4 separate regions of the Homo sapiens genome follow, and regions 1, 2 and 4 are each linked to region 3. Evidence: fine-mapped expression QTL. A gene starts in region 3. Each other region holds a variant in brackets. All regions are shown on one strand. Distances are from middle to middle.

The links. PIP is the estimated chance that this variant, and not a neighbour inherited with it, causes the effect.
Region 1: its variant is fine-mapped to the expression of PER3 in whole blood (Lepik 2017, PIP 0.95).
Region 2: its variant is fine-mapped to the expression of PER3 in blood mononuclear cells (TOPMed, PIP 0.96).
Region 4: its variant is fine-mapped to the expression of PER3 in lymphoblastoid cells (TwinsUK, PIP 0.95).

The regions. Positions count from the first base shown.
Region 1 is chr1:7,852,973-7,861,079 of GRCh38, forward strand. It overlaps UTS2 (urotensin 2), which reads right to left and starts at 93. Exons shown (of 4, transcript NM_006786.4): 1 at 1-93. The coding sequence starts at 31. RefSeq lists an enhancer at 1-301. The variant G/A (reference allele first, on the strand shown) is at 4,793.
Region 2 is chr1:7,835,227-7,843,333 of GRCh38, forward strand. PER3 (period circadian regulator 3) reads left to right here. Exons shown (of 22, transcript NM_001377275.1): 20 at 536-719; 21 at 1,773-1,923; 22 at 7,446-8,107. The coding sequence ends at 7,529. Among named protein-coding and RNA genes, the nearest start is that of UTS2, 14 kb to the right of the region's middle. The variant G/A (reference allele first, on the strand shown) is at 3,452.
Region 3 is chr1:7,779,588-7,787,675 of GRCh38, forward strand. PER3 (period circadian regulator 3) reads left to right here and starts at 4,704. Exons shown (of 22, transcript NM_001377275.1): 1 at 4,704-4,789; 2 at 5,067-5,418; 3 at 5,854-5,999; 4 at 7,134-7,249. The coding sequence starts at 5,291. VAMP3 (vesicle associated membrane protein 3) reads left to right here. Exons shown (of 5, transcript NM_004781.4): 5 at 39-1,845. The coding sequence ends at 58. RefSeq lists a silencer at 4,170-4,779.
Region 4 is chr1:7,815,344-7,823,450 of GRCh38, forward strand. PER3 (period circadian regulator 3) reads left to right here. Exons shown (of 22, transcript NM_001377275.1): 14 at 3,942-4,077; 15 at 4,772-4,896; 16 at 5,124-5,297. The region is part of intron 1 of LOC124903833 (a long non-coding RNA gene); the gene reads right to left. Among named protein-coding and RNA genes, the nearest start is that of UTS2, 34 kb to the right of the region's middle. The variant A/AT (reference allele first, on the strand shown) is at 4,449.

The DNA of each region.
Region 1 (8,107 bases), 73 kb after region 3:
AAAGCAAACAGCAGGAGGCCAGCTTATACATGATCGCCACAAGATAGACGGCTTCCTTCTTGGCTTCTGTTGTAGAGAACTTTCAACTGTCTCCTCATTCTGCCTGCTCACTGATTATATATATCATCCTATGACCTGACATCATCCTCTCCAAAAAAAAAAAAAAAATGAATTTATTGGCTATGGAGGCTAAAAGGCAATCACTTTGCATTGATGTAATTTTTCAAGGTAACAAGTCATAGACAATAAATTAACTGTCTTGTTGCCTAGTGTACAAAGTAGGTATTATATAAAGAACAGTGAGTTTATAAATCTGGCAAAAGAGGCAACTTACAGCAATAAATCATGAATTAAAGGAAGGCTTGGATATGAGTTGAAGTGGCCAAAGCAAAGAGACGTGGATTTATGAGTCCGAGCAGAAGTGACGCAGAGCATAAGATGAAATACGTTGGTTTCCATTTTTTAATCTTTCATGAGTGAGTAGATGAGTTGCCATGCTGTGTTTAGGGCTGCCATCCCTGAAGAATGACAATCTGTGGATTAAAACGTAAAACCAGCTATTTCCTTTAAAACAGTGAAAAGTTAAAATACATAGCAAACATTGCTCCAGGCTCAAGACAATTCTGTACATACACGTGGCCTCATGTGAAGCCGCAAGCACTTCAATCTTCAGAGAAAGGAAATAACTTCATAAAGTTGATTATTATTCAGCAAGGAGGGAGGAAGGACTTAACACCAGAAAACTCGCTGATAAACATTTCCAGAATGTGGCCTCTACTCCCAACTGTACTCTGCCCAAGCTGGTCCAAGCCCGGATGGGTGGAAAGGTCCCCGACAGGCGTCCTGAAGTCTGCCTTCGGGCCTGCCACAGGCTCAGCACAGCAGAGTGATGCCAGAAGCATCTGCATAAGTCAGATCATGGTAGTTCTTTGCTCAAAACTTTCTGTGGACCTAAACACAAAAGTTACAAAGATAGGCCAGGCACGGTGGCTCATGCCTGTAATTTCAGCACTTTGAGAGGCCGAGGCAGGAGGATCACTTGAGTTTAGGATTTCAAGACCAGCCTGGGCAACATAGAGAAACACTGTCTCGGCCGGGTGCAGTGGCTCACGCCTGTAATCCCAGCACTTTGGGAGGCTGAGGCGGATGGATCACGAGGTCAGGAGTTTGAGACCAGCCTGACCAACATGGTGAAACCCCGTCTCTACTAAAAATACAAAAATTAGCCAGGCATGGTGGCACGTGCCTGTAATCCCAGCTACTCAGGAGGCTGAGGCAGGAGAATTGCTTGAATCCAGGAGGCGGAGGGTGCAGTGAGCCAAGATTGCGCCACAGCAGTCCAGCCTGGGTGACAGAGCGAGACTCTGTCTAAAAAAAAAAAAAAAGAGAAGGAGAAACACTGTCTCTACCAAAAATACAACAATTAACCAGGTGTGGTGGTGCATGCCTGTATCACTTGAGCCTGGGAAGTTGAGGCTGCAGTGAGCCAAGATCGTCCCACTGCACTCCAGCCTGGGTGACAGAGCGAGACCATGTCTCAAAAAAAAAAAAAAAAAGAAGAAAGAAAAGTGGTTACAACGTAATGATAGAACTACTAGGGGAAAAAACATGAACACCTTCACAACCTCAGGTTAGGCAAATATTTCTTAGACAAGACACAAATCACACAGGAAAAAAATTGAGACAGGAGGAATAAGTTCAAGAGATCTATGTACCTCAGGGTGACTCTGATTAATAACAATGTATAGTTGAAGATTTCTAAAAATCGATTTTGTGTTCTCATCACAAAAAAATGCTAAAAACGTGAAGTAATACACATGCGAATTAGCTTGATTCAGCCATTCCACAATGTATGCATATATCAAAACATCAAACTAATAACAATAATAATAATAATAATAATCATGGCCAGGCACAGTGGCTCACACCTGTAATCCCAGCACTTTGGGAGGCCGAGGCAGGTGGATCACCTGAGGTCAGGAGCTCAAGACCAGCCTGGCCAATGTGGTGAAACCCTGTCTCCACTAAAAATACAAAAATTAGCTGGGCGTGGTGGCAGGTGCCTGTAGTCCCAGCTACTTGGGAGGCTGAGGCAGGAGAATTGCTTGAACCTGGGAGGCAGAGGTTGCAGTGAGCCAAAATCACACCACTGCACTCCAGCCTGGGTGGCAAGAGCAAAACTCCTTCTCAAAACAAACAAACAAGTCATGATGTATACCATAGATACCATTTTTGTAAATTAATCAATAGATGAACAAAACTGATAAATTGGACTTTATCAAAATTAGAAACATTTGCTCAAGATACTGGTAAGAAAATGAAAAAGCCGAGCAAGGCGCGGTGGCTCACGCCTATAATCCCAGCATTTTGGGAGGCTGAGGCGGGCAGATCACCTGAGGTCAAGAGTTTGAGACAAGCCTGGCCAACATGGTGAAACCCTGTCTCTACAGAAGATAAAAGAATTAGCCAGGCGTGGTGGCGGGCCCCTGTAGTCACAGCTACTCCGGAGGCTGAGGCAGGAGGATAGCTTCAACCTGGGAGTCGGAGGTTGCAGTGAGCTGAGATCATGCTGCTGTATTCCAGCCTGGGCAATATGACAAAAGGTTTGAAAAGGACTTCAGGCTGGTCTTGACCTCCTGGCCTTAAGTGATCCACCTGCCTCAGCCTCCCAAAGTGCTGGGATTACAGGTGTGAGCCACCACATCTGGCCATTATTATTATTATTATTATTATTATTTTATTATTTTGAGACAGGATCTCACTCTGTCACCCAGGCTGGAGTTCAGTGGCGTGATCATGACTCACTGTAGCCTTGACCTCCCAGGCTCAAGCAATTCTACCTTGGCCTTCCAAATAGCTGGAACCACAGGCACATGCCACCACGCTCAGCTAGTTTTTTTTTTTTCAGATGGGGTCTCAATGTGTTGCCCAGGCTGGTCTCAAAATCTTAACCTCAAGCAATCCTCCTGCCTCAGCCTCAGCCTTCCAACCCTCTGGGATTACAGGCGCAAACCACCATGCATGGCTTTTTTATTTTTTGTACAGACAGGGTCTTGCTATGTTGCCCAGGCTGGCCTCAAACTCCTGGGCTCCAGAGATTCTCCTGCCTCGGCCCCCGGAAGTGCTGGGATTCCAGGTGTGAGCCTCCACACCTGGCTATCGCACTATTTTATGTATTTATCCTTTATAGTAGGCAGACTCGATAAATATTTGTTGAATCAGTGAGTGGGGCACCAGCCTATGGGAGTCTCTGTTTAGGGGAAAGAACGGTGAACAAAATAAAAAGTTTCTACTCTCATGAACTTTCTGACTGGAGGCGATAGACAACAACATTAACATACGCTGTAGGAATTGTTTATTGCTATGAAGAACAATAACAAGGAGACAGTACAGGGGCAGGTAGTCAGGGCAAGTGTGATTTCAGACAGGGCCCTCGGGATGCCCTGGAAAAGGGGCATCTGAGCAGGAGCCGAAAGGAACAGGGCAGCCATCCGTTCAGTGGTGAGTGGAGTGTGGAGCCTCCAGCGAGAGAAGTCGGGGAAGCGTGGCCTCCGAGGAGGAGGAACTGAAAGAAGATTCCTGCGAGGGCAAATAAAGTGAAGAGAGTCCCTGGGGGACCCCTGCTGGCAGGAGAGCCCAGGGCGAGTGCTCGCACACTGTCCTCTAAGATGGAAAGTGCTCGAATCACTTAAGACTTGTTAACTCTTTCGACAGATATTTCTCAGCACCCCCATGTGCCAGCAGGGTCGGACAGAGGACGGAACCTAACGTCCAAGAGAAACCACTTCCATCCAATTTAAGAAAACAGCCGGGCACGGTGGCTCAGACTTGTAAGCCCAGCACTTTGGGGGGCCGAGGCAGGTGCATCACCTGAGGCCAGGCGTTTGAGACCAGCCTGGCCAATATGGTGAAACCCCATCTCTACTAAAAATACAAAAATTAGCCGGGAGTAGTGGTGGGCGCCTATGATCCCAGCTACTTGGGAGGCTAAGGCAGGAGAATTGCTTGAACCCAGGAGGTGGGGGTTGCAGTGAGCCGAGATCGTGCCATTGCACTCCAGCCTGGGCCACAAAGGAAGACTCTGTAGGAAAAGAAAGAGAGAGAGAGAGGGAAGGAAGGAAGGAAGAAAAGGAATGAAGGAAGGAAGGAAGGAAGGAAGGAAGGAAGGAAGGTGAAGCATGTTGGAAAGACACTGGATAGCTTCCAGAATCCCAGGAAAAGTGGAGGAGCAGGGACCAGGATCCCACTGGCCTTCTGACCTCTGCCCTCTGCCCTCAGTGACTTGACTCCTCCCTCTTCCCTCCTTCCTCTCCCTACTCACCCTTGCTCTCCCCACAATCCTCCATCTCTCCTGTAATTCAACCTTTTGGCCTCAATGCCCTAAATAAGTGCATTAAGTATCAAAATGTAATTTTGGTAACCATTAAAATAGTAACCAAAAGATTATAAAAACTTGGAAAATATAATAAAAGAACTAGAATATCAGGTAGTTACTACTATGTTAAAAAAAAAAAAAGATGAGCTTGTGGGCAAGCACTGGTGGTGTCATTTTACAGAATTGAAAATAAAGGGATTTTTTTCTTTTCTTAAAATGTTTTGATGCAGCATGGTGGCTCCCACCTGTAATCCTAGCACTTTGGGAGGTTGAGGCAGGAAGATTGCCAAACCCAGGAGTTTGAGACAAGCCTAGGCAACCTAGTGAGACCCTGTCTCTACAAAAAATACAAAACTTAGCCAGGAGTAGTTGTGCACCTGTGGTCTGGGCCACTTGGGAGGCTGAGGTGGGAGGATC[G/A]CCTGAGCCTGGGAGGTTGAGGTTGCAGTGAGCCGTGATCATGCCATTGCACTCCAGCCTGGGCAACAGAGTGAGACCCAGTCTCCAGAAAAAAAAAAAAAAAAAAGCTGTTTTACATTGTCTGTCTGTGTATTACATGTGCATGTTTATGCTCATGCATGTTTATATATATGTAAAGCACTCATGAAGTCTCACAAAGAGGAAGGACGGACTCAGGCCAAGAGACAGGGGTCTTTGAAGACCCGTGAGGACCATTTCAAAATGAGGTGGGAGATGAACTCTGGGGCTCCAAGGAAGAGGCTGTTTGCCAAGCTTTGTCATTCCCTGGTGACTCAGGGGGTACTTCTGACAGTTATTAGTGATGGTTTTACAGCATGGCCTAATTAAATTACTACTAAAGGCTTACGCTTAAAAGAAAATTAGCTTCTTTCCTTCAACAGACCATCAATGACAGTGTCACCTTGTCCCAGAAATGTACTGAGCACGTCATTCCACGCTAATGGCCCTTGCATTAAGCAGCATGGCTTCACATCTGTGCCAGGACATACATGAACAAAGACCACCCTGAGAAGTGGGATTCCTCTAATTAGCTGCAAACAAAGTAACTTCTGAAAAGAGAGGGGCATTGTCTGCGTGTCATAAAGAAGTAAACCATTAATATTTGGGATGGCTTTGTCTATGGAGCACTCCCATCCACTGGATAAGCATATCATAAAAATTACAAACCTCTTTTCAGTTTTAGTTTTGAAATTAATCTAAACTCCCTCTCCCTGATGACACGTTTGTCGTTGTATAATATGCTCATAACTTCTATTAATTATTTTTTTTTTGACACAGAGTCTCACTCTGTCGCCCAGGCTGGAGTGCAGTGGTGCGATCTCAGCTTACTGCAACCACCACCTCCAGGGTTCAAGCAAGTCCCTATTCTCACGCTTCAGCCTCCCAAGTAGCTGGGATTACAGGCATGCACCACCACACTCAGCTAATTTTTGTATCTTCAGTAGAGATGGTGTTTCACCATGTTCACCAGGCTGGTCTCAAACTCCTAGCCTCAAGTGATCCACTTGCCTCAGCCTCCTATAGTGATGGGATTACAGTGTGAGCCACCACGCCCAGCTGGTCATAACTTCTGAATATGAGGTTACATTGATTCTCCTCGGTTGTGGGGATTCCATGAAGAGAAATTGATAGGAATTGACTTTGCCAAATATTTAAAGCCTATTCACTGATTGCCAAATAAATATCATAATTTGGGGTGATCTGTGAGGAATATGTTTGTGTGTGCTTTGAATACTGCAATGTTTGTACCATTTTTATGCGCAGACTTGGGTCCAGAGAAGTTGAGGATACCTGAAACCAGGGCAGCTCATATTCAACTGACATTGAACTTCTGAACTTCCTGCAGACATCATCGGGGTCCATTCTTACTTGTGTTCATGTAAAACATAGGTTAGAGGCTCTCAGATAGACTTTTAATTTATATTAATTAAAATTAATTAAAATTTTAATTTAATCTAATCTACATGAATTCTAGATTTCGTTTCTAGTCACCTATATTTCAGATAACCATTTGGCTTAAGTGACTACTGAATGCCTCGTCTGTCAGCTGCAGCAATAACCCCTGAGGGGGTCACAGGCCCCGTGCTGGTCCCCTCAAGAGATAGTGGGGAGAATGGTGGGGACTTCACAGGAGAGGCTCTTTTCCTGCAGAGGGTCAGCATAGGCTTGCAGGAAATGTGGAGAGGGCCTCGAAGCTATCTGAGAGGAAGAGCCTCCAGGCAGACGGAACAGTGAGTGCAAAGGCCCTGGGGTCAGATGAGGGATCAGCCTGAGCCATGCGCCCAGCATGTTTGCCAAGGGCTGGACACAGCCAGATAAAACCAGAGATCAGTGGGGCTATGTCACGTGACCATATCGAGGAATTCGGGGTTTTGTCATTTACCAGCAATGAGGAGCCTGGGCATGGCTCATGCCTGTCATCTCAGCACTTTGAGAGGCCACGGCAGGCAGATCACTTGAGCCCAGGAGTTCAGTACCAGTCTTGGCAACATGGTAAAACCCTGTCTCTACAAAAAATATGAAAAATTAGCCAGGCATGGTTGCATGCACCTGTAGTCCCAGCTACTTAGGAGGCTGAGGAGAGAGGATGGCCTGATCCCAGGAGGCGGAGGCTGCAGTGAGCCAAGATTGCACCACTGCACTCCAGCTTAGGCGACAGAGCGAGATCCTGTCTAAAAAAAAATGCATACATATATATATAGCAATGAGGAGACGACAAGGGTGTTTGTTGAACAGTGAGTAATGTTATTCTCTCACTCATTCAACGAACATTGAGCATGTGCCAGGGACTGTGTAGGGTACTAGGGATGTAGCAATGACCAAAACAGACCAAGCCTCACCGAGTTTATGTTCAGTGTCAGGTGCTGATCAATGCCACAGATAACTAAGTAGGTTCAGGTGGGCGATGGGATGGACGGGCTCTTTTCCTGGAGAGGGTCAGCGTAGGCTTGCAGGAAACGTGGAGAGAGCCTCACAGCTAGCTGAGAGAAAGAGCCTCCAGGCAGATGGAACAGCGAGTGCCAAGGCCCTGGGGTGGGACTGTATTAGGCCTGTTTGAGGAACAGCCAGGAGGCCCGTGTGGTTCAGTGTGATCAAAGGGGAGAAGTGTGGGAGTTGAGGCCAGAAAGATGCAGAAGGGCAGGTCACACAGGCTCCGGAAGCCACCGTAAGGACTTTCTGTTTTAAAATGAGATAGGAGGTCCATTTTGAAGAACAGTATGGCACAATCTAAACTGTGTTTTATTTCTATTATTATTATTTTTCGAGACAGGGCCTCACTCTGTTGCCCAGGCTGGAGCACAGTGGTGCAATCACTAATCACTGCAGCCTCAAATGCCTGGCTCAAGCCATCCTCCTGCCTCGGCCTCCCAAGGTGCTGGGATTACAGGCATGAGCCACCATGGTCGGACTAAATTATGTTTAAAAGGCTCAGTCCGGGCTGGGCCTGGTGGCTTACACCTGTAATCCCAGAACTTTGGGAGGCCAAGGCAGGAGGATCACTTGAGATCAGGAGTTCGAGACCAGCCTGGCCAACATGGTGAAACCCTGTCTGACTAAAAATACAAAAACTAGCTGGGCATGGTGGTGGACACCTGGAATTCCAGCTACTCGGGAGGCTGAGGTATGAGAATTGCTTGAACCTGTGAGGCAGAAGTTGCACTGAGCCGAGATCACACTACTGCACTCTAGCCTGGGTGACAGAGCAAGGCCTTATCTCAAAAAAAAAAAAAAAAAAAAGGCTCACTCCAGCCTCTG
Region 2 (8,107 bases), 56 kb after region 3:
AGAAACACTGTACCCTGTTATATGTGACTTTCTGTATGTATTTGGCGACTTGGGTTTAGGTAAGAACAAAGTCAATAATTGGCTTTATTGGAGTTGGCATTTTGACAGTTATGAAAAGTCAGAGGGAAAAAGAAGTCTAAGGTATTGCAAGGTGTGTTACTGAATGATGAACTGAGGACTCCACTACAGGAAGACTAAGACGTTATTAACACATTTATAGTTGAAATAATTGAACAAGCCCATGAGAGAGTGAAGCTGAGATGTTGATGATTTTGGAGATGGAGCGGTTATGGGTGATGATAAAGGACAATGTGTGTAGCCTTGAGAGTGATAGCTCATTAGGAATGGAAAAAGAGATCTCAGGAAGACCAAAGAACCAGGAGGCTGTCCACAGGGAGGAGGAAGTTTCCCGGAAATGATGGTTGGGCTGGCTGAGGAGGAGGACTGTCCGAGGCAAGAGTCTGAAGAATGAGAGCCAGTTTGGCAAATCAGTCGGACAGGTCTTTTCTAATTATGTGTTGTTGATTTTTGACAGGAAGCAGCGACAGCAGTATATACCTTACTAGTAGTGTTTATTCTTCTAAAATCTCCCAAAATGGGCAGCAATCTCAGGACGTACAGAAAAAAGAAACATTTCCTAATGTCGCCGAAGAGCCCATCTGGAGAATGATACGGCAGACACCTGAGCGCATTCTCATGACATACCAGGTACCTGAGAGGTAAGAAAGCACTTTAGAAAACCCACTTTTTATATTTTTGTGGTTTCTTTTTTTCTTTTTTTTCTTTTTTGAGACGGAGTCTCGCCCTGTCACCCAGGCTGGAGTGCAGTGGCACGATCTCAGCACACTGCAACCTCCATCTCCTGGGTTCAAGCGATTCTTCTGCCTCAGCCTCCCGAGTAGCTGGAATTATAGATGTGCACCACCATGCGTGTCTAATTTTTGTATTTTTAGTAGAGACGGGGTTTGTTTGTGACAGAGTCTCACTCTGTCGCCCAGGCTGGAGTGCCGTGGTGCCATCTCGGCTCACTACAACCTCCACCTCCCAGGTTCAAGATTCTCCTGCCTCAGCCTCCCAAGTAGTTGGGATTACAGGTATGCACCACCACACCAAGCTAGTTTTTTGTATTTTTAGTAGAGATGGAATTTCCTCATGTTGGCCAGGTTGATCTTGAACTCCTGGCCTCAGGTGATCTGCCCACCTCGGCCTCCCAAAGTGCTGGGATTACAGGCGTGAGCCACTGCACCCGGCCTATGGTTTCTTAATGTGTTTTTAAAGACAAAATAATTATTGAATGTTTTATAAATTCCCTTTGAGAAATGTGTCTTCAAATTTATTCATTTGAAGTCAAGTGATGAATGATTTCTTAAAATAAGGGTGGCAGTGGTAATGTTACCTCTATTCAGATCCAGACTAAACAGATCTTACACATCATGAGACAAAGAAACAAAGTCTGTGCTTTCCAAGATGGCACACAAGTACAAGAACTTTTTGTTTTAGACTCTTGATTTTTTTGCCCCTTCTAAAAAGAGCTAAGGGAAATCTCTTTCTTCCATACACCTCATTAAAACATCATATAGATATTTTCCACCAAGAAAAAAGCCTTTACCAACTTGAAAAGGAAATGATCTAGTTATTTTTTTAATGTATGCCTCATGTGTTAGAAAATGTAAGGTGTATTACCAACCAAGAAGAAGTGCTATTCCTAGATGACGGGAAAAGAACCCTGTGTCTTATTCAGGACTATTAAGATTCTGTTTGTTTGTTTTCAGGGTTAAAGAAGTTGTACTAAAAGAAGACCTGGAAAAGCTAGAAAGTATGAGGCAGCAGCAGCCCCAGTTTTCTCATGGGCAAAAGGAGGAGCTGGCTAAGGTGTATAATTGGATTCAAAGCCAGACTGTCACTCAAGAAATCGACATTCAAGTAAGCACAGTAATAATGGCTGTCATATACTCATGTATTTTGGCCAGGTAGTGCTTTTAATATAGGTCGTGTTCTTGCATGATCCCACTAAAAACTTTAATCCTCACAGTTTACCTCTATGGTAGGTGTTATTATTCCCTCTTTACCAATAAGCAACAAGCAGGTTATACACATGTGAAATAATTAATACAAGGCCATGCAGTTCATTGGGTTTTGAATACAGGTCTTTTTGCCTCCAGGTGGTTTTTTCTTCTACCAGTTGGAATGTTAGGGTACGATAAAGAGTAAAAACACCTGCTTTGATGTGTGATTGACTGCATTTGATAGGTCATTTGTTATGTATTTCAAATATGTCTGCATTGTTTGAAAAGAGTTAAAAAAAGATGTAAGATTCACACCAGAGGTAGTATTCATACTAAGCAGAAACTTTAATGGGACTTAAGTGTCTTTTTGCTGTTATGAGTTCTTCTCAATGAGATTATTTGTGAATAGCCTGAACAGTAAAGCTTTGATTTACCAATGGTCCCAACCAGTGTTGGTGGCAGCTGTGGTAATGGTAGTGATGGTTGTACTAGTAGTGAGATCTTTATTCCCGCAAGTATCAAGATATGGGAGGTTGAAGAGTCAAGTTAATAACAAGTAGGCCTAGTCCAGTGGCTCACGTCTGTAATCCCAGCACTTTGGGAGGCCAAGGTGAGAGGATCAGGAGTTGGAGACCACGCTGGGCAGCATAGCCAAACCTCATCTCTAATAAAAATCAAAACAATTAGCCAGGTGTGGTGGCGTGCACCTATAGTCCCAACTACTCAGGAGGTTGAGGCAGGAGGATTGCTTGAGCCTGGGAAATTGAGGCTACAGTGAGCTATGATCTCGCCAGTGCATTCCAGCCAGTCTCAAAAAAGACAAATAATTCGTGTGTGTGTGTGTGTAAAAATATTTTTAAAAAAGAGAGTAAAGTTAGGTGTTAAAGTATGATATTAAGGCTTATGAAGTAAGCAAGACAATGAAATCCTACTACCCCCTCTTTTTAAAAACTAACATTTTTATTGTGGTATAATACACATAACATGGAATTTACCTTCTGAACTATTTTTAAGTATATAATTCAAGAATATTAAATATTTTCACATTATGCAACCATCACCACCATCCATCTCCAGAACTCTCTTCATTTTGCAAAACTGAAACTCTGTACCCATTTAACAATAACTTCCCCATTCCTCCTTCTCCCAACCCTTTGCAACCACTGGTCTACTTTCTCTTTTTTCTTTTTTTTTGAGACAAAGTTTTGCTCTCTTGCCCACGCTGGAGTGCAGTGGTGTGATCTTGGCTCACTGCAACCTCTGCCTCCCAGGTTCAAGTGATTCTCCTGCCTCAGCCTCCAGAGTAGGTGGGATTGCAGGCGCACACCACCATGCCCAGCTAATTTTTGTAGAAATGGGGTTTCCCCATGTTGGCCAGGCTGGTCTCAAACTCCTGACCTCAAGTAATCTGCCCGCCTCAGCCTCTCAAAGTGCTGGGATTACAG[G/A]CAAGAGCCATATGAATTTGACTACTCTGCACACCTCATATGAGTGGAATCATACATTATTTGTCTTGGTGTGACTGACTTACAGACGTACCTACTCTCTTGGTTACTATCTGCATGTAGTAACTTTTTACATCCTTTCACTTTCAACCTATCTGTATCTAGATCTAAAGTGAGTAGGCAGCATATATCTGAATAGTGCCTTTCAAAATCGGTTCAGTCAATCTCTGTCTTTTGATTGGAGAATTTAGCCCATTTACATTTAAAGTAATTACTGGTAAAGAAGGACTTACTTGTGGCATTTTGCTATTTGTTTTCTATGTGCCATAAAGATTTTTTTTTCCCTCATTTGCTGCATTACTGTCATCTTTTGTGTTTAGTTGGTTTTTTGAAGTGAAATGTAATGCCCTGCTCATTTCCTGTTGTGTATATTGTGTAGCTATTTTCATTGCGATAACCATGGGGATTACGTTTAGCATTCTAACATATCACTCCAGTGTGTAATTTATACCAGCTTAACTTTGATAACCTACAAAAACTCGCTTCTGTAGAGCTCCATCTCCATCTTCTTTCAGTTACTGAAGTTATGAAATTAGGTTTTTATACGTTGTGTTTCCAAAAACATAATTATTTTTATGCATTAATCTATTAAATAATATAGAAAGCAAAATATGAGATTACAAATCAAAGTTAAAATAATACTGGATTTTATAGACTACTAGTTTTCTTTGAATGTATTAGTTTCTTAAATCATGTAGAAAACAAAAAGTGGAATTGCACATTGTCGTTGCAATCATAATATTTACCTTCGCTGAGATCTCTATTTCTTCACACAGCTTCAGGTTACTGTCAGTGTCCTTTCATTTCAACCCTGCAGGACTCCTGTTAGCATTTCTTGGATGGTAGGTCTAGTGGTATCAAACTCCCTGGCTTTTGTTTGTCTGGGAATGTCTTCACTTCTCCCTTACTTTTGGCCAAAGGATTTCTTAGTTGACAGTTTTTTTTCTTTAAGCACTTTGAATACACTGGGACACTGCCCTCTGGCCTCCACAGTTTCTGATGAGATATCTGCTGATAATCTTATCGAGAATCTCCTGCATGTGTGAGTTGCTTCTCCCTTGCTGCTTTTAAGATTATCTTTGTCTTTGACTGCACGGTATTTAATTATAGTGTGGATCTCCGAGTTCTGAGTACATCCTAGTTGGAGTTCATTTAGCCTCTTGGACTTTTACATTCATGTTTTTCATCAAACTTGGGGAGTTTTCAGCCATTATTTTTTCGAATAATCTTTCTGCCTCTTTCTCTTTTTCTTCCTCTGGGGCCCCTGTAGTGCTTATGTTGGTCCACTCGATGGTTTCCCACATGTCCTCCAGGCCCTGTTGACTTTTCTTCAGTCTTTTTTCTTTCTGTTCGTCGGACTTGACAGTTTCAATTGTCCGGTCTTCATACGTGTATTCTTTCTTCTGCCTGCTTAGATCGGCTTTTGAATCCCTCTAGTGAATTTTTCATTTCAGTTTTGTACTTTTTATTTATGGAATTTCTTTCTGGCTTCTTTTTAGGTTTACTATCTCTTTATTGATATTTACATTGTTTGTACATTGTTTTCTTGATTTTGCTCCATGTCTTTCTTTAATTCTTTCATCATCTTTTTCTTTTTTCTATTTTTTTTTTTAGACAAGGTCTCACTCTGTCACCCAGGCTGGAGTGCAGTGGCATGATCATGGCTCACTGCAGCCTCAGTCTCCTGGGCTCAAGCAATCCTCCCACCTCAGCCTCCCGAGTAGCTAGCACACACCACCATGCCCAGCTAATTTTTTAATTTTCGTAGAGATGGAGTTTTGCCACTTTGCCCAGGCTGGTCTTGAACTCTTGAGCTCAAGCAGTCCACCTGCCTCAGCCACCCAAAGTGCTAGGATTATAGGTATGAGCCACCGCACCCAGCTTTTTCTTTTTCTTTCTTTTTTTTAAGACAGTCTCACTTTGTCATCCAGGCTGGAGTGCAGTGGTATGATCACAGTTCACTGCAGCCTCTACCTCCTGGTCCCAAGTGATCCTCTCAAGTAGCTGGGACTGCAAGTGTGTACCACCATGCCTGGCTAATTTTTTTTTTTTTCCCAGAGATGGAGCCTCACTCTGTTGCCCAGTCTGGTCTTGAACTCCTGGGCTCAAGCCATCCACCTGCCTCAGCCTTCCAAAGTGCTGGGATTACAGGCGTGAGCCACTGTGCCCTACCAGTTCTTTGATCATCTTTCAGTTGTTTTAAAATCTTTGTCTCGCAATTCTTTCATCTGGTCTTTCTCAGAGACTTTTGCTATTGGTTTATTTTTCCCTTTGAATGGCCTATACCAAGGGTGTCCAATCTTTTGGCTTCCCTGGGCCACATTGTAAGAAGAAGAATTGTCTTGGGCCACACATAAAGTATACTAACACTAACAATAGTTAATGAGCTAAAAAATAATAAATCACTAAAAAAAACTCAAAATGTTTTAAGAAAGTTTATGAATTTGTGTTGGGCCACATTCAAAGCCATCCTGGGCCGCATGTGGCCCATGGGCAGGAAGGGGGTCGCACAAGCTGGGGCTGTACTTTGGCGTTTCTTTGTATGCCTTAATGATTTTTTTTTTTTTTGGTTGAAAACTAGACATTTGAATCTAATAACATAGTAATTCTGGAAACCAGATTCTCCCCTTTCCCAGGGCTTATTGATTCTTGTTTTATGATTGTTGGAAGACGGGGTCCTTATTGCCCACTCTGACTCCCACAAGCTGTGTGCAGGCTGCTCCAGGAATACGTGCCTTGTCCAAGGTCAGGGATGGGTAGTTGCTGCTGTGCTTCAAGCTGAAATTGACCACAGGCAACCACAGCTTACCGTCTAAGCATTTCCTAGAAAGTTGCAGGCGTTCAGATAGACTCGAGTTCCAAATAGTTACCTCGGACTCATTTTGTCAGTCCAGTTGTTGTCTAGGTGAGGAGACAGAGTCCTAGTCTTCCTACTCTGCCATCTTCCCAGAATAATCTCCCCATCTCCATTTTCAAAGAAAAGAATGAGTGTCTGTCATGTAAGAATGGCTGGGTAGGGTCTCACCAAAAAGCAGGAGCTGGGCTGGTTATTGTAAGTGTCTTTGTTTTTTTCAGTGTTGTTCTGGTTGTAAATAGACAGGTATATGAAAAATGAGCCCCACAGCAATTTAAACAAAAGCACAGTCCTTTCACCACTTAGTAATGGGGATGTTTTGTGCAAGCGTCCTAGAGTGTACTCATACAAACCTCAGTGGAGTAGCTTGCTACAATCACTCCTAGGCCCTATGGGACAGCCTTTTGATCCTAGGCTACAAACCTGTACAGCTGTTACTGTCCTGAATACTGTAGGCCGTTGTAACACAGTGTTACTTGTGTATCTAAACATAGAAAAGGTACCATAAAAATGTGGTAGGATAATCTTACAAGACCACCATTATATATGCAGTCTGTTTTTGACCGAAACGTCATGTGGCACATGACTGTATTTAAACAATTTGTCATTTGCCTTTTAATAATAAAGAATGAGGCTGGGCGCGGTGTCTACTACCTGTAATCTCAGCAGTTTGGGAGGCCAAGGTGGGCGGATCACGAGGTCAGGGGTTCAAGACCAGCCTGGCCAACATAATGAAACCCTATCTCTACTAAAAAACAAAAATTAGCTGGGCGCGGTGGTGGGCACCTGTGGTCCCAGCTACTTGGGAGGCTGAGGCAAGAGAATCGCTTGAACCTGGGAGGCGGAGGTTGCAGTGAGCTGAGATCGCACCACTGCATTCCAGCCTGGGTGACACCGCAAGACTCTGTCTCAAAAAAAAAAATAAAAATAGTTATAATAATAATAAAGAATGAACTATAATGAAATATTTTCAGACATGAATAAGTTGGGGATTTAGAAACATGTGACCAGCCTTTTACTGTTTTAAAACTCTTTAGGTGACATTGACATCAAGTAACTCGCCTGCTTTGTTCTTTTTTGGAGGCCTGTGTCACTTGTGAAAATGAAGATTCAGCTGATGGTGCGGCCACATCCTGTGGTCAGGTTCTGGTAGAAGACAGCTGTTGAGTGACTGTGAGGATGAACCTTCATACCCTTTCCAAGACGTGTTACACAGACAGACCTTTTTAAGTCCTGGACTTTTAAATGACCATGAAGTTATCATTGAATGTTAAGATTTTTTCTTCTTGATTTTTTAATACACGTAATCTTTTTGAAGCAGACATTGTATACAGAATCTTACTTCTCTTTGTTCCTGATATATTAAAATGGCCAGTTAGGCTCTTTTTGTAGTTGAATTGTCTTCTAAAGAGATTGGATGGCCTCTAAAGAGGTATGTGTATCTTTATTTCAGATGTCACCCAGAGTAAATTATAATTAGAAGTATAGCTAGAATGAGCCCCAAACCTTAGCCTCATTTATTTTGTTCTGTTACATAAGTCATTTTCCCCTTAGAGTGCTTGAAGAAATGCCACCTACAGGTTGTGTACTTTTCATAATGGTTTCCATGAATGTAGTACGTTCATACAGGCTTCATTCAACCTGGCGTTCCCCTCCATAATTAAGATGAAACATTCCGGTTTTCTCACAACACATTAGCACATACTGTCCATTAGCATATCTGGGATAACCAGGTTTTGGGGGTT
Region 3 (8,088 bases):
TGTTTCCCCTGCCTTTTTGCATCTCTCCTCCTTCTTAGTGTGGGTTGTCTCTTCATGAAGAACCAGCGGAACTCAAAACTGCTGTTCAAGAAACCTCTTCAAGACTTTTGACTTAGAACCTGCTATATTATCAAGCTTACCTACTGTTATCTCTAAAATTTTTTTTGTGTTAATGTAAAGTTGAATTTCTAGGAAACGTGCCTTTGTTTTTTAATATGCACTCCAAATTAGAAGGCCGGCCCCGTCCACATTTTGCACAGTGCCTTTACAGATTTACGTATGGGCTGATGAAGAGGCCTTCTTAAGTTCCAGAGTGCTATAATCTAGATGTAATGTTGTCACTAATTAATTGCCATTACTCCCAGTTAGTTACCCTTGTCATTTGGCATTATTTTCAGAACCACATTTTAAACCTTTGGGTAATCAGATTTCCAACTTATGCCTTCCAGAAAAAAACACTACTGCCTAACACAAATCTGTGATAACAACAGGCTGTGCCTTATTTTGATAATTTTCTGATTCCCTAGAAGAGAACCCTCTACTTTTTGTAAGCACTACTGACTCTCGCTGTATTTAAGATGCTGGTGAAGAGCTTTTGCTCTTGCATTAGATTTGAAGATGTTTACATTGTTGTTATTGTTATGTATCACTTGCTAAAAATATTGTTTTAATCAGAGATAACCTCTTTAAAAAAATTTTTAAAGAACTATGGCTATGACCAAAGCTTCTATTTTGCCAAAAAGTTAAATACCGATAAAATGGCCTTAAGTGTATTCCTGACAGTTAAATTCAGAAACGTGCCAAATGGAACTCAAGGTGCCCCTTCAGAATTAAAATCATTACCTTGTGTGTGAACCTTCTACATCTTCATAGGCCTTTCTTCCTTTTGAAAGGCTGTAGACAGTGTGGCTCCCCTTCTGATTCAGTATTTTGCATGGGGGTTAGAGAAGGTTTGAGGTAGACTCTGACCGTCTCATAAAAGAGTTCTACCCAGCAGTTGGCAGATTATCAGCTGTGGACTCCAGCATGTTTCTGATAATTATGCAAGCAACAATTCTGTAGCCTCAAGTAAGACCACCTGTGAACTTGATCATTATCTGGCCCAAATATGAAGATAAACTATAACTTTGGAGTTTGTTTCCTATTTGTATTCACATTCTGCTTCCTAAATCAGTTTTCTAAATTATGCCTGCAATTAGGCATTGGTCAGGGGTGAATGGCTCTTTTCACAGAGAGTAGCCAACCAGAGACCTTTGCTTTGATATCATCAACTGCAGAGAATGCTGTTGATGGGAATGCTGGAAGCAGAAACTTTGTCATCGGAAAAACTTTTCTTGTATGCATGAGACTCAACATCAGGATCCACAGCTTAAAGATGGGAATTCAGGTATGAAAGAAAACAGGCAAGGAGGCACTGAGGGAGAAAGACACAGACTTTATCGCTCTGTGGCTCATTGTTACTGGAATATTCTAAAACTCTTGTTCACATGCTATTATGACTTATAAAGCAGCAACAGCTGAGGCGCACCAGGACACAGCTTCCATTTCTTTAACGTCTGTTCCCTTAACATCGCTGAAATGATTTACTGTTGAAGAGATGCCTTGCGGTGTGGCCAGCTGTGAGGAGAAAGCAGCTGGCAGTGTTAGGACATTAGTCCACCTTCAGCGCAGGGTCTCTGGCCGGGTCTGACTCAGAAACCTTGGTACTCGCCCCTTGGCCACAGTGCCCAGACCCATGTAACCCACTGGCTCCTGCATTAACCCAGAAATACCTCGCTTCTATCTGTGCACTTAGCTGGGAACTTACCCACTGTAATCACCTAAATAAAGTGTTTATAAACATGATTGTGGCACCTGTGCTCCTTGTAGAGGAATAGCTGCACCTGGTCCGAGTCCTAAAAATGCCATTCCTTGCTGCTCCCCATACCTGTCCCTTAGAAGCCCCGAAACTGTCTCCCCCTTTTCTCACCAGCCCCTCTCTAGGTACTCTACCCTTTTGGTACCCAGCATTTCCGCATACCCCAGTGAACAGAAGAAAACCGCTCCCCTTGTGAAAAGTGCTTTTTAGTATAGGCGATGAGGAGGAAACTGGCTTTTACACAATTACCAAAATTCAGGATGTGGCTTTGGAGTTCCCTAAATAGATGGTCTTTCTAAAGTGATGTGCAGAGCCGACCCCGTCTGTGGTAGACTAGATGGCTGCTGGCATGGACCCTGGGATAGATGAGTGGATAGGTGAGGGACATCCCCAGACACATGGCTCTGTTCCTGTAGATCCTTTTTTCCTCATGAATGTATTTCCATTCTTATCGTAGAACCCCTAGGAAACAATATAATACGGGTGGAAGAGGACTTTTGCTTATGTTTACAATAGGAAAATCCAAGTCCCTTTCCCGAATTACAGGTCCCACGATGATCTGGTCCTTTCTAGTTTTCTGACTTCATGTCACACGACTCTCCAGCTCTCTCTTCTCCAAGCAAGGTACTCCACCAAAGTATAGCTGTTGACATCGGAGAGACTTGTGCCCATGAGACTTTCAACATCAGGGTGTGGCTTGAAGGCCAGAGTTAGCTATGAATGAAAACAGGCAAGGAAGCCCTGAGGGAGAAATGGACCTGATAAAGTTTGTTTCGGTTTCTCATCAGCAAACTGACTTCTTTCCAAAGGTCTTCTGCAGGTACTTTCAGCTCTGCCGGGTCTACTTCCTCACCCGCGGCAGGCGCCTCTCATCTCAGGTTGAAATCCGCCTTCCCCACTCGCGGCAGGCGCCTCTCATCTCAGGTTGAAATCCGCCTTCCCAGAGGCCTGCCCTGCTGATCTGACTAAGCAGGCTCTGGCCTCCCCACTCCACCTTTCTCCCAGTTACTCTTCCTTCCAGTAGTTTGTTTTCTACACATCGCTTTAGGCTTTATGAACTTGTTTATGGGGTTGTTTGTATGGCTTTCTCAATAAAACGTCAACTCCCTGGGTGGCAGGGACTTTGGGCCACTGTTCTATCCGCTGGGATTCCAAGCGTCCCTACCCAGATCTGCACGCAATAAATGCTTGCTGAACGAATGCAGTTTGACAAAACCCAGCTTCGGAGGAGAGCAAGCCAACCTAGAGTATCGCTTGGAAGATATAAGGTGGTTTATTCAATACCTAACATGAACACTCACCTCACTTTTCCCCTCTTCCTTTACATACAATTTCATCCATCCAACAAATACTGAATATTTTTTCTGTACCAGGCAGCGAAGAGGGGCGGCACTCTGCACTGTACCTTTCATTTCTAACATGTTGAGATACTAAACTGAGCTTTCAGACATTTTTTTTAAAGGGCTCTACAACTTCTTTTCTGAAACAGAGTGTCTTTTACGTTTGTCTTCCTCCAGTTGCCAAATGAATCTAATTTTAGGAAGTGCAGGGAAGTGTTTTAAGTTCCACCGTCAAAATTCTGTTTCTGGGCCGGTGCAGTGGCTCACGCCAGTAATCCCAACATTTTGGGAGACCGAGGCCAGCAGATCACTGGGGCTTAGGAGTTTGAGAACAGCCTGGCTAACACAGACCATCTTTACCAAAAACACAAAAATTAGCCAGGTGTGGTGGCTGCACCTGTAGTTCCAGCTACTCGGGAGGCTGAAGCAGGAAACTGGCTTGAGCCCAGAAGACGGAGGTTGCAGTGAGCCAAAATCGCGCCACTGCACTCCATCCAGCCTGGACAACAGAGCAAAACCCTGTCTCAAAAAATAAAAAATCTGTTTCTAAAAATCGGGTGGGCTTTTTACCAGGGCTGCTTTATGGCCCGGTTCCTCCAAGTCCACCCCACTCACCGAAAGAGTTAGCGGAGGATGGGGGCGGTTGGGGTGGGCTCGGTAGGTCACGGGCGGTGAAAACCGTGGGAACCCAGAAAGACGGCCAAAGCACGATGAGGACCGCTGCCGGCAGCCCGCCCCACCCTGGGCTCCTCCCCACACCCGCTCGGGCAGCCGGGAGCCACCTACAAACTCCAGGACTCGACCCCAGAGCGCTGGCCTGAGCCGCCCCTGCTCGCCCCCAGTCCCCGCCTCTCCCTCCCTCTAATGCCCCCGCCCTCGACACCGTCGCCCCCCCGCCCCTGCCTCTCGCTCCCCACGTCTCTCGGCACCCCCGCTCCCATCCGCCCCCCCGTCCCCGCCTCTCGCCCCCATCCGTCCCCATTTCCAGCCTCCCCCTGACCCCGACTCAAGCCCCCCGACTCCGCCTCTCGCCCCTCTCTGCCCCCGCCTCTCACTCCCCTCTCCTTCCCCGCCCGCCTCTCACGTGGAGGTTGGGCCGGACCCGCCCCGCCCCACAGAGCCCGGGTCCCGCCCCCACGTGGCTGGCAGCTTCCTGGCCCTATCATTTCTGCGCTGGCTTCAGCGGCTCCGCCCCGGCGCCGTGCCAGGGGGCCGGACACTCCAGTCGCGCGGCACAGGCCTGAGGCCGCTGAGGGCCACCCCGTCCCCTGCCCGCCCGCCGGCCTGCTGGGATTGGCCGAGCGCCGGCCTCCGCCCGAGCCCGCGCGTTATGTAACGCGCCCCGGGGGCCCCGCCCCCTCGCCCTGGCTTATATAACCCGGGCGCACCGGCTCGCGCCCCGCCCCAGGGCCAATGGAGGCCTGCGGAGTCGGCCCCGACGACCAATCGCACGGCCCGGGGGCGGGACCGGTCACGCGGCGGCAGGGGGCGCGGCGCCGGCTGCTGACCGGCACGCGGCGAGCCTCGAGACTGCGCGAGGGCGGCCCCGGGGGCGAGCGGCTGTGCGCGGGGCCAAGGGCGGGGGCAGCAGGTGAGTGCGCGGCCGGGCGGGAGTTCTGGGCGGCCGGGCGGGAGTTCTGGGCACTCGCGCGCGGCAGAGGAGCCCCGCGAGCCCTGCCCTCGGTACTGGGGGCCCCCGGAGCGTGGCGCTTCCGAGCCACCCGCCTCCCCGGGCCCCATCCCTCGGCGCGCGGGAAAGTTGGGGCAGGGGTGAGGACCGCGCGGTCGGGGCGCCCCAGCCAGCCGGGCCGCTGGCGTCGGACTGTCTGTTCCATTTGTCCCTTGTCACCCTTGTCTCCTCCCCCTAGGCCGGAGTCCTGAAAGTCGAGCGAGCTCCGGGTTTTGAAAATGTTGGAGGGAAAAGCTCCTCGGAGATGAGCGTGACCCCCTGGCTCGTGGTGGCCGCCTGTTCTCACTAACGCCATGGCGGGGACCGGAGTGAGAAACCGGTGTCTGTCACTGACTGCAAAGTGAGCGAGAAGCAGGCTGCGGGCCGTCCCAGCACGACGTGGAGCCCCGCGGAGACCTCGAGATGCCCCGCGGGGAAGCTCCTGGCCCCGGGAGACGGGGGGCTAAGGACGAGGCCCTGGGCGAAGAATCGGGGGAGCGGTGGAGCCCCGAGTTCCATCTGCAGAGGAAATTGGCGGACAGCAGCCACAGGTGACGCGCTGGCTTCAGGCCGAGGGCCCCATGCGTTCGTTGTCCTTCCCTGGAGCAGGGAAAGGGGGACCTAAATCTTTTTATTCTTTTGTTTTCAAGCCCAGGGGAAAGTGTAAAGGGGAGACTCGGGCAATGTAGGATGAAGTGATCCGTGACACTGAAGAAAATTACCGAAGAGTATCAGGAGGGAAAAGTGGTTACAAAAGTTAGCTGAGTTGGGGCTCAAGTGGATTAAGGGAAAGTAAGTGGAGAATGTTTGTCATTCACCAGTTGCTTTGCCTCGAGTTCCCCACCTAGAGGAAGAGGGGTCACCACCCTGTGGACTGATGCCGGTAGAGCACTTAGAAACTTACCTGGCTTGCAGTTTGTGTTCCCTAAGCCGCAAGATGCTGTTGTCTTCAGAGGATGAAGTTGTAATTTTTTTTTATCTTCCAGTGAACAGCAAGATCGAAACAGAGTTTCTGAAGAACTTATCATGGTTGTCCAAGAAATGAAAAAATACTTCCCCTCGGAGAGACGCAATAAACCAAGCACTCTAGATGCCCTCAACTATGCTCTCCGCTGTGTCCACAGCGTTCAAGGTAAACAAGCCGGAGAGAAATTTCATCCTACGAATGCACCAGGACTCATACAAGCAGCCAGAGGAGTGGTCAGTGGGGTCTCAGTCAGACAAATAATTTGAGCTTTTTCTGGTGCTTTGTGGAAGATGAGCAAATCTACACCGATTCCATTCGTGTCTTAATTGTTCACATGTGAAAGACCAGGAAAACTTTATCTGTATAATAGTGTATAATACCTATGCAATGTTTTGCTCATGTGTTGCAAGAGAGTAGAGTTTAGCATAAGCACATTTTGAAGGCTGACCTTTTAAAGAAATATTGTCTTCTATGGAAGTTATGGGAAAAAAATGCATTCCACGAAATAGTTACCTTTACATGCCGTACACATACTTTCAAAATGCAGTAATGAGGCTGGGCGCGGTGCCTCACGCCTGTAATCCCAGCACTTTGGGAGGCCGAGGCGGGCAGATCACGAGGTCAGGAGATCGAGACCATCCTGGCTAATACGGTGAAACCCCGTCTCTACTAAAAATACAAAAAATTAGCCGGGTGTGGTGGCGGGCGCCTGTAGTCCAGCTATTCGGGAGGCTGAGACAGGAGAACGGCGTGAACCCGGGAGGCGGAGCTTGCAGTGAGCCGAGATCACGCCACTGCACTCCCGCCTGGGTGACAGAGCGAGACTCTGTCTCTAAAAAATAATAATGATAAAAATGCAGTAATGATATATCAGGAATTTACCAAACTAAAAATGAACCATTGTAAACACTTTTTCTCTCTGACATTTCCAGGGATTTCATTAAAGCCATATTCTCTTTAGCACAAACCTCAGTGCTTCATATATGATATGTTCCTGAATGACAGAGTACTGTTTCTGCTCCCCCCGCAAAAAAATTGTGTATGCATCTGAAATTTTTAGTTAGTACCTTAAATGTATCTTGCTTCCTGTGATCCAGAACATGCAGAATTCATAAAATCAAATCTTAAGTTTGCACAACTATCAGTATTTTAGGTAAAAGCAGAAAATGATCTGTTTTTGAGAAAAATGCACTGAGGTGTTCTCATCCGAAAAAAATAATCCAGCTTGATAGTGATGAAATGGTTTCCTAAAGATACTGTTGTCACTGGACTACCTGTTTATCTCCCTGTGTTTCTTAGCAAACAGTGAGTTTTTCCAGATTCTCAGTCAGAATGGAGCACCTCAGGCAGATGTGAGCATGTACAGTCTTGAGGAGCTGGCCACTATCGCTTCAGAACACACTTCCAAAAACACAGTAAGAATTCATGCATTTTGCCATATCAACCTGGGTGACTTTTCCTAAGGGCCTGCTCTAGATGTAGGCTTTTAAGAAGGATAACAACGTTTCAGCAACCACAATTTGAGAGAAGCAAAGGAGGAACTGCTAAAGAGGCATGGTGTAGCTTCTCCGCCCTTGCCAGAGAAAACATCTAAAAGCAGAAGCAGCCCGTTCTGTGTGCTGTGCAGCTCAGTGACTTTGGTTATGAGGTGCTTCTAGCTCCTTAGCATTCCCAAGCTCTCTTGAATTAAGAGAAAACAAAAATTACACTGCAGAGTAATTTCCTGCACCTTATTCTAATCTCCGAATTGTTAATTTCTATTTATATCATTCTTAGTTCCAATACCTACTACTTCAAGTTGTAACAACTGGATGTTATAGAACAGGTGAGTTGAGATGCTGTCATTTTTCCTAAAATTTTGGAAGAGACCTTTAGTATATCTTTTTTAATCTCTCTTCTTGTTTGACAGAGTAATCTTCATGTTTGGTTGATACGGTGGAGATTACTTATTTTAAGTAACATAATTGTTACTTAAAGATTTTGTAATAGTGGAACGTGCGCAATCCCTAGTATTATAACAGTGCTTATTTTATGGACTGGTGTGTACATAGTACTGTAGGAGGTGCTATGGAGATTTTTAAAAATAGCTTAAGAAAATATTTGTCTTTTAAGATATTTAAAATAAAGCTAGAGAGGAAAGTATGCCAATGCTAGCAAACACAAACTGCTGATTATAAATAAGTTTCATTTATGTGTAATGGAAAAAATTAGAGCAGTGATGCTTATGTAATGAGGTTTGTCAAGGACAGCTTCT
Region 4 (8,107 bases), 36 kb after region 3:
TGTGAAAATAAACATAGGTTAAAAGCAAAAGAGTAGAAAAGATATACCATGCTAACACAGAAGAAAGCGGGAAGCTGTATTATTACACAAAGTAAACTTCAGAACAAGGAATGTTAGTAGAGTTAGAAAGAGAGACTGTGTAACAGATAAAGGAGTTGATTCCTTAGGAACATAGAACAGTCTTACATGTTTATGTATCTAATATCAGAGCTGTTTATTCTCTAGCCATAATGGATTAAACTAGAAATCAGTAACAGAGGTATCCAGAAAATCCTCAAATGTTCAGAAATTAAATAACTTCATACTTACAAATAATCCACAGGTCAGAGAGGAAGTTTCAAGGGAAATAAAAACATTTTGGGCCGGGCGCAGTGGCTCACGCCTGTAATCCCAGCACTTTAGGGGGCCGAGGTGGGCAGATCACAAGATAAGGAGATCGAGACCATCCTGGCTAACACGGTGAAACTCTGTCTCGACTAAAAATACAAAAAAAAAAAAAATTAGCCAGGCATAGTGGCACACACCTGCAGTCCCAGCTACTCAGGAGGCTGAGGCAGGAGAATTGCGTGAACCCAGGAGGTGGAACTTGCAGTGAGCCAAGATCCCACCACTGCACTCCAGCCTGGGCGACAGAGCGGACTCCGTCTCAAAAAAAAAAAAAAAAAAAAAAAAAATTGAATTGAACAAAATGAAAAGAGAACATAAAATATGTGGGATATACCTAAAACACTGCTTAAAGGGAAATTTACAGCACTGAGTGTTTATATGGAAAAAAGAAGAATGGTCTCGACTCAGTAATCTAAGCTTCCTCCTTAAAAATAAGAGAAAAAAGAACAAATTGTTTCACAAGTAAGCAATAAGAAGGAAATAATAAAGACCAGATATCAATGGAATTGAAGAGAAACTAAGTTAAATCAAAGGGTAATAAAATTAATAAGTCTTTAGCCATACTGAACAAAAGAAAAGAAAGGAAGGACAGGTTGGACTTTATCAAAATTTAAAACTTCTCCTTTTTGAAAGAGACTGATAACTATGGCCATACCACCCTGAACGTACCCAATCTTATCTGAAAGGCACTGATAAGACAAATGAAAAGACAAAATAGTTGCAAATGATATATACAATAATGAAGTTATATCCAGTGTACATAAAGAACGCTCAAAACTCAAGAAGACAACCCAATTAGAAACATTTTTCCAAAGAAGATACATAAACAGTAAATAGCATATGAAAAGATGCTGAACCTAAGTCATTAGACAAAAAAAATGTAAACCATATGAGATAACACCACACATCTGTGAGAATGGCTAAGTTTTTTTAAAAAACTGACAAGTGTTGACAAGGACACAGAGTGACCAGAGCACTCACCTATTGTTGGAGGTAATGCCAAATTGTACAGCCACTTTGGGAAAGTTTGACATTTCCCATAAAGTTAGACATACTCTTACCATGTAACTTAGCAATTCTATTCCTAGTGATTTACCCAACTGAAATAGAAACTTAAGTTCACGCAAAAACCTGTACATGAATATTTATTACACTGTTACTCTCCAAACACAGAAACAACCCAAATGTCATTCAGCAGGAGAATGGATAAGCTATGTGTATCCACACAGTGAAATGCTACTTAACGGTGAAGAGAAATGAACTTGATTCACAGACCATTGTATATATAAATCTTAAATACATTTCATTAAGTGAAAGAAGGCAGAACCAAAAGGTTACATATTGTACAATTCCATTCTGGAAAAGCGTTCTTTCTGGAATGCTCTAGCTCTGGAAAACAGATCAGTATTTACTATGATTGGGTAGAGAAGGAGGTGACTACAGAGGGACAGCTGTAAGGACATTTTTAAGTCATGGAAATGTTCTTTTGGTTACTGTGGTGATGGATACACAACTTTCCGTGCATTTGCCAAAACCCACAGATTTGTGCACTCCATCTCACCCCAAAATGCAGAGAGAACCCAAGATGAGATGCAGGCATTGACAACTGAGTCCAACTGCATTACAGATGACAGGCCTAAACACACGGAAGGGGTGGGGAAGAACGGAGCTCAGTAGCTTTGGAAAACAGTGCTTCAACTGTATCTCCTAGGGCTAAATACAAAATTATGAATGTGCACAAACACTGTACGCAAGTTGGTGTATTCGTTTCCCACCAGAGTATGGGTTAGCAATTCTAAAGCGACTTTATACTAGGGTTGAACAAATTGTGGAAGCCGCTATAGATAACGATGACCAGACTCCTCACTATCAGGAAAGCCACACAAAGCAGAAGGGAAGGAACTCCATGGTGCTGGATTGGCGCGAACAGTTTCAGTGTGGACTCATGCCCCTTTTGTTTAATATACAGAGGGATGGATAGACACGGGTTAGTATATTATACCAAATAAAGAATAAAACAGATGGTTCAGGCAAAGATTATCAAGGAATGAAATAGAGGTGAAAGGTTAATGGAGAACTTAAACTTTGAGAAGTTTAAAAGAAACAGAATACTTGCGTGATCTCAAAGTATTCCTCCAAAACATATTATTTATTACATTGTAAAATAGTAACTTTACACAGGACAAACAAACCTGAGAGACACCATGTTAACCAATGAACAAGGTAACAAAACATACTGACATCATGTACCCTGGGATGATGCACAAGGAAGGACACTGCACCTCCGCCGCATTCTCTCCCCAAATGCATAACCTCAATCTAATCATGAGAAGACATCAGAGAAACTCAAATCGAAGGCCATCCCACTAAAGTTCTGACCCTGAACGGAAAACAACATTGAGTGGTAAACTGATAAAATCCAAAGAAGGTCTGTTTTCCAGTTAGTAGAATGGTACCACTGTTCATTTCCTAGTTGGGGTCATTTTATTATGGTTGTAGACCATGGTAACATTAGTGGAAGCTGGGTGATGGGCATATAGGAACTCTATTGTACTATTTTTGCAACTCTTCAAGTCTAAAATTATTTCAAAATTAAAAGTTAAAAATCATTAATGAGTGAAAGGTAATACAGTCATTTTTCCATAATATGCTCTGAAAATAGAGAAGCCTCTTCCAAGCCAGCTAAAAATGACCAGCATCTAACACTTCTACAAAACTTCTCAGTAGTACATGACATAATTAGTTACTCCTTCCTTAAGAAAGTTTTCATTCTTGGTCGCTGTGAGGCCAAACCTTGCAGGATTTTCTGTTATCTTTCCAGCTACCCTTTTTCAGTCTCCTTTATTGGCTCATTGTCCTTTATAGGAAGTTTTTAGTGCTTAAGCCTGGAGGTTTTTTCTTCTCTCTAAACTACTACATCTACAATGGTGGCCACTTGCCACATGTGGCAATTTAAATTCAAATTCAATACAATTAAATGTAATACAATTAACATTTAGTTTCTCAGTTGCTTTAGCCATATTCCAAGTGTTTAATAGTTACGTTAGCACATATAATACTAGTCAGCACAAATAATCCATCAGTCATCACAGAAAGTTCTGTTGGACACAGGCTCCACCTGGGAGATGCTGTGTACTTCACACAGCATCACGTAAGATGCACAGGTCTTCCCACATTCCACCCTTAGTGATTGCCAGGGTTGATCAGTTGTACAGGAAGCGTCAGCTTAACATTGGAAAGCTCCCCATCAACCTTAAACCTATGGTTTCATTCCTTGATAATCTTTGTTGGAAATTTTTGTTTCATTCCTTATTTTTCTAAATACAATCGTAGCCATTCTATGTGTAATGTGCTCTGCACCTTATTTTATTCATTACGTGTTGTGGATATCTTTCTATTAGTGCATTTTAGATCTGCACTCATTTTTAATAGCCGCATGATATTCTGTTGATATATACATGATAAAGTGCCATGATTTAATTTTGGTAAGAAAGTATATGTTCTTAATTACATGCTGGGTACTTTTAATTGCACATCCCTTTATTCTGTTTCAGGTGAATGTAAGACCTTTACTTCCTTCCACCAAACACTGAAAAACAATAGTGTGTACACTGAGCCCTGTGAGGATTTGAGGAACGATGAGCACAGCCCATCCTATCAACAGATCAACTGTATCGACAGTGTCATCAGGTATGAGACCGCAAGTTTGGATACCATGTAAGTCTGTTCCGGAAGCATACACTGCCACTGTAGAGACTTCATAGAATTTTTAATAGCTGCTCTGACTTGGTTTTTCACTATAAATCAGTAGACGTTTATGGCGTGCCTAACACATACGCTGAACATTTCAGAAGGCACAAAAAGCTAGAAGATGCATTCCTTCTTTGAAGGAACTGTGGTATAGTTCAGAAGACAAGACCTAATTTTGTCAAAATTAAATGGTGTAAGGCAAGCTTCTCCAACCCATGGCCCACAGGCTGCATGTGGCACAGGACAGCTTTGAGTGCAGCCCAACACAAGTATGTAAACTTTCTTAAAACGTTATGAGATTTTTTTGTGTG[A/AT]TTTTTTTTTTTTTTTAGTTCGTCAGTTATGATTAGTATTAGTGTATTTTATGTGTGGCCTAAGACAATTATTCTTCTTCCAGTGTGGCCCAGGGAAGCCAAAAGATTGGACACCCATGGTATAAGATTTGAAGGTTAATTCAAGACCACAGTAAAAGAAATGTTACAATCCAGTGATTGAGGCTGGGATGGTCAGGGAAGACTTTATCAAAGAAGAAAGTACAAAGTATGCCAAACATAAGTGGCATGAGAAAAGCAAAGAGGTGGGAAATGGCACAATTAGGGAACAGGTAAGAATGTGTGGCCTAATTATGTTGTTACAGATACCTGAAGAGCTACAACATTCCAGCTTTGAAAAGAAAGTGTATCTCCTGTACAAATACAACTTCTTCCTCCTCAGAAGAAGACAAACAGAACCACAAGGCAGATGATGTCCAAGCCTTACAAGGTAACAAGAATGCCCCTCAGAGTTAAATTCAAAGAACTGTAAATACATCCTTCTTGTTTCTCTTTAATGTCTTATATTGTTATAAGCATAAAATTCTGGTTTCATATTACCTCTTTATGACAGTAAGGTTTAATTTCTCAGTTACAAACTTCTGTAAACTGGGTCTTTTATGTAAATTTCTCGTTGGGAATTTTTCTTTTCACTGTCAGTTTCTCTTACACCACCAGCTGGTTTGCAAATCCCAGCCATACCTAAATCAGAAATGCCAACAAATGGACGGTCCATAGACACAGGAGGAGGAGCTCCACAGATCCTGTCCACGGCGATGCTGAGCTTGGGGTCGGGCATAAGCCAATGCGGTTACAGCAGCACCATTGTCCATGTCCCACCCCCAGAGACAGGTACCACACTCGCCTCTTACTTTGAAAATATACTCAACTTTAACTACATTGTGATGAGAAAACAAAAGTCATGAATACCATTCGCTCGGTTGTAACTTCTAAACTACACATATTTTTTCCTTTCTTTAGTTCAGTTAAAGTATTTCTGGAAACATTATCATGTTTATGTTGGTTACATATTTTGGACAGTATTTCTCAGTTATGTTATTTGTCAATGAAATCAGTTGACACATATAAAGCACTTAATACAGTACCTAGTAGGTAGGTATTAGCCCTCAATTAGTGTTAGCCATTATTAATGCAATTATTGATGGCACTGTGTTAGGTTACTTCCTTGCTGACTTTCACAGAATGTGTTCCTTTCACCTGCATTTCACCATCCTGTATTGTGATGAGCTCAGTCACACATACCTTCAGATTTTTGTATTGCTGTGATGGCAATGAATAGAGTACTTTAAAACTCTTCATTTAATACCATAATTTCTTGGTAAATTATTCTACTGTCTTCTTATTCCTCTTTATTGCCACTTGTCCTTTTGACATTTTCATCACTCATAACAATTTGGGTAGATGAAGGAATGGTGACAAATACGTTAAATTGGGTTTTCACATGATCTCTGCTTTATCTTTGCTAGTCTTCAGTGGCTTATCAGCTAATACGTGTTAAGCCATTTCTGTGTGCCACTGTCTGCTCTTAGTTCTTCACTGGTATGATCTCATTAAATCTTTCCAACAACCTGTGAGATGGAGAGTGTGGTACTGACAGGAGATCTGTGGATTGGTGGAGAAAGATCAGAGAGCATTACGTTTCTAATTAGTCAAAAGTAGAGTTTCACTGGAACTGAGCTAGCCCCTCCACAGAGGAGCATATGCACATTTTTTAGTGTGCCTTTTAATATTTTGCATTCCTGTGTGGGCATGTAGCTGTTCATAATACAGCCCATACAGGAAGGGAGGGTATCACCCAATATGAAAAGCTCTTTTTTTTATATTCTGCCACTCTGCTTTCTATACTCTGCTCTTATATGACCGTTTTTAATGAATTTATACTAAAGTCTATATGCTTTAGGAAATTTTTACTGCTATTAGTTTCTTCTGATCTTAAATCAGCCTCAACATTTACAGGGCCACATCTTTATTCCATGGAGAAAAAGCAGAATCAGAGCCCAGATATTCCTTAAAACATATCTCTATGTCTTTTGCTTTCTGAAAAGCTCATATTCATTAGCTCAGTTTGCATCCTGACTCAGATGAGTTGTGTCTAAGGACGATGGTCACAAATGCATTTCCTTGCAAGTTAATGTCTTCATTTTATGTGTGGAACAATTAAACCACAAATTAGGCACAGTAACTTCACTTGCCCAATATGACACAGCCCATGAGTAGTAGAGTAGGGAATCAAGTATTGACCATTAGTCTCTAGGAGTCGTTGCCATTACAGATACTTTGAACCTAAAGCAGGGTCTAATTAAGATGGAATGTAGGCCAGGCACAGTGGCTCATGCCTATAACCCCAGCATTTTGGGAGGCCAAGACAGGAGGATTGTTTGAATGCAGGAGTTTGAGACCAGCTTGGGCAACATGGTGAGACTCTGTCTACAAAAAATTTAAAAAAAAATTTTTTTTTTTTTTTGAGAAGGAGTCTTGCTCTGTCACCCAGGCTGGTGTGCAGTGGTGCGATCTCAGCTCACTACAGCCTCCACCTCCCGGATTCAAGCGATTCTCCTGCTTCAGCCTCCCAAATAGCTGGGATTACAGGCCCCGCCACCATGCCCAGCTAATTTTTGTATTTTTAGTAGAGATGATATCACCATGTTGGCCAGGCTGGTCTCGAACTCCGGACCTCAGGTGATCCGCCCACCTTGGCCTCCCAAAGTGCTGGGATTACAGGCGTGAGCCACAGCGTCCAGCCCTAAAATAATTTTTTAAAAGATGGAATATGAGATACAATGACTAAGCCAATCAATAAAATGCAAATTTAAAATAAACTCAATCCCAAAGAAGAGCAGGAAAGGAGGAATAGATTAACAAAAAAGAAGCAGAGAGAACAAACCAAATAAGATAATAGCTCTGCATGCAGCTATGTCAATAATGACATAAAATTGACTCAACACTTCAATTAAAAGGCAAAAATTGGGCCAAGCATAGTGGTTCACAACTGTAACCCCAGGGACTCAGGAGGCCAAGGAGGTAAGATTGCTTGAGGCCAGGAGTTTGAGACCAGCCTGGGCAATACAGTGAAACCCCATCTCTACAAAAAATGTTTAAATTAGCCAAGTGTGGTGACCCACACCTGTAGTCCCAGCTACTTGGGAGGCTGAGACAGGAGGATCAATTGAGCCTAGCTTGAGCTCATCTTGGGTTCGTTGCTACAGTGAGTTCTGATCACATTACTGTACTCCAGCTGAGGGACAGAGCAAGACCCTGTCTCTAAAAATAAGTAAATACATGAAAGGCAAAAATTCTCAAAACAGATTTTTAAAAATCAAGACCTAACTATATGCAAAGTACAAGTGAAATTCACAAATGGATTGAAAGTAAATGAATGGAAAAAGATGCACAAGTGAAACCGTAAGCATCAGAAGGCTGCAGTGCCTTATTAATATATGTAAAATAGATTCCAGGACATCTTTTCATAATGACAAGGTGGTCAATTCATCAGGAAGACATAACAGTCATAAATGTATATTCATTAATAACAGCTTTGAAAGCTATGAAGCAGCCGGGCGTGGTGGTTCACGCCTGTAATCCCAGCACTTTGGGAGGCCAAGGCGGGCGGATCACCTGAGGTCAGGAGTTTGAGACCAGCC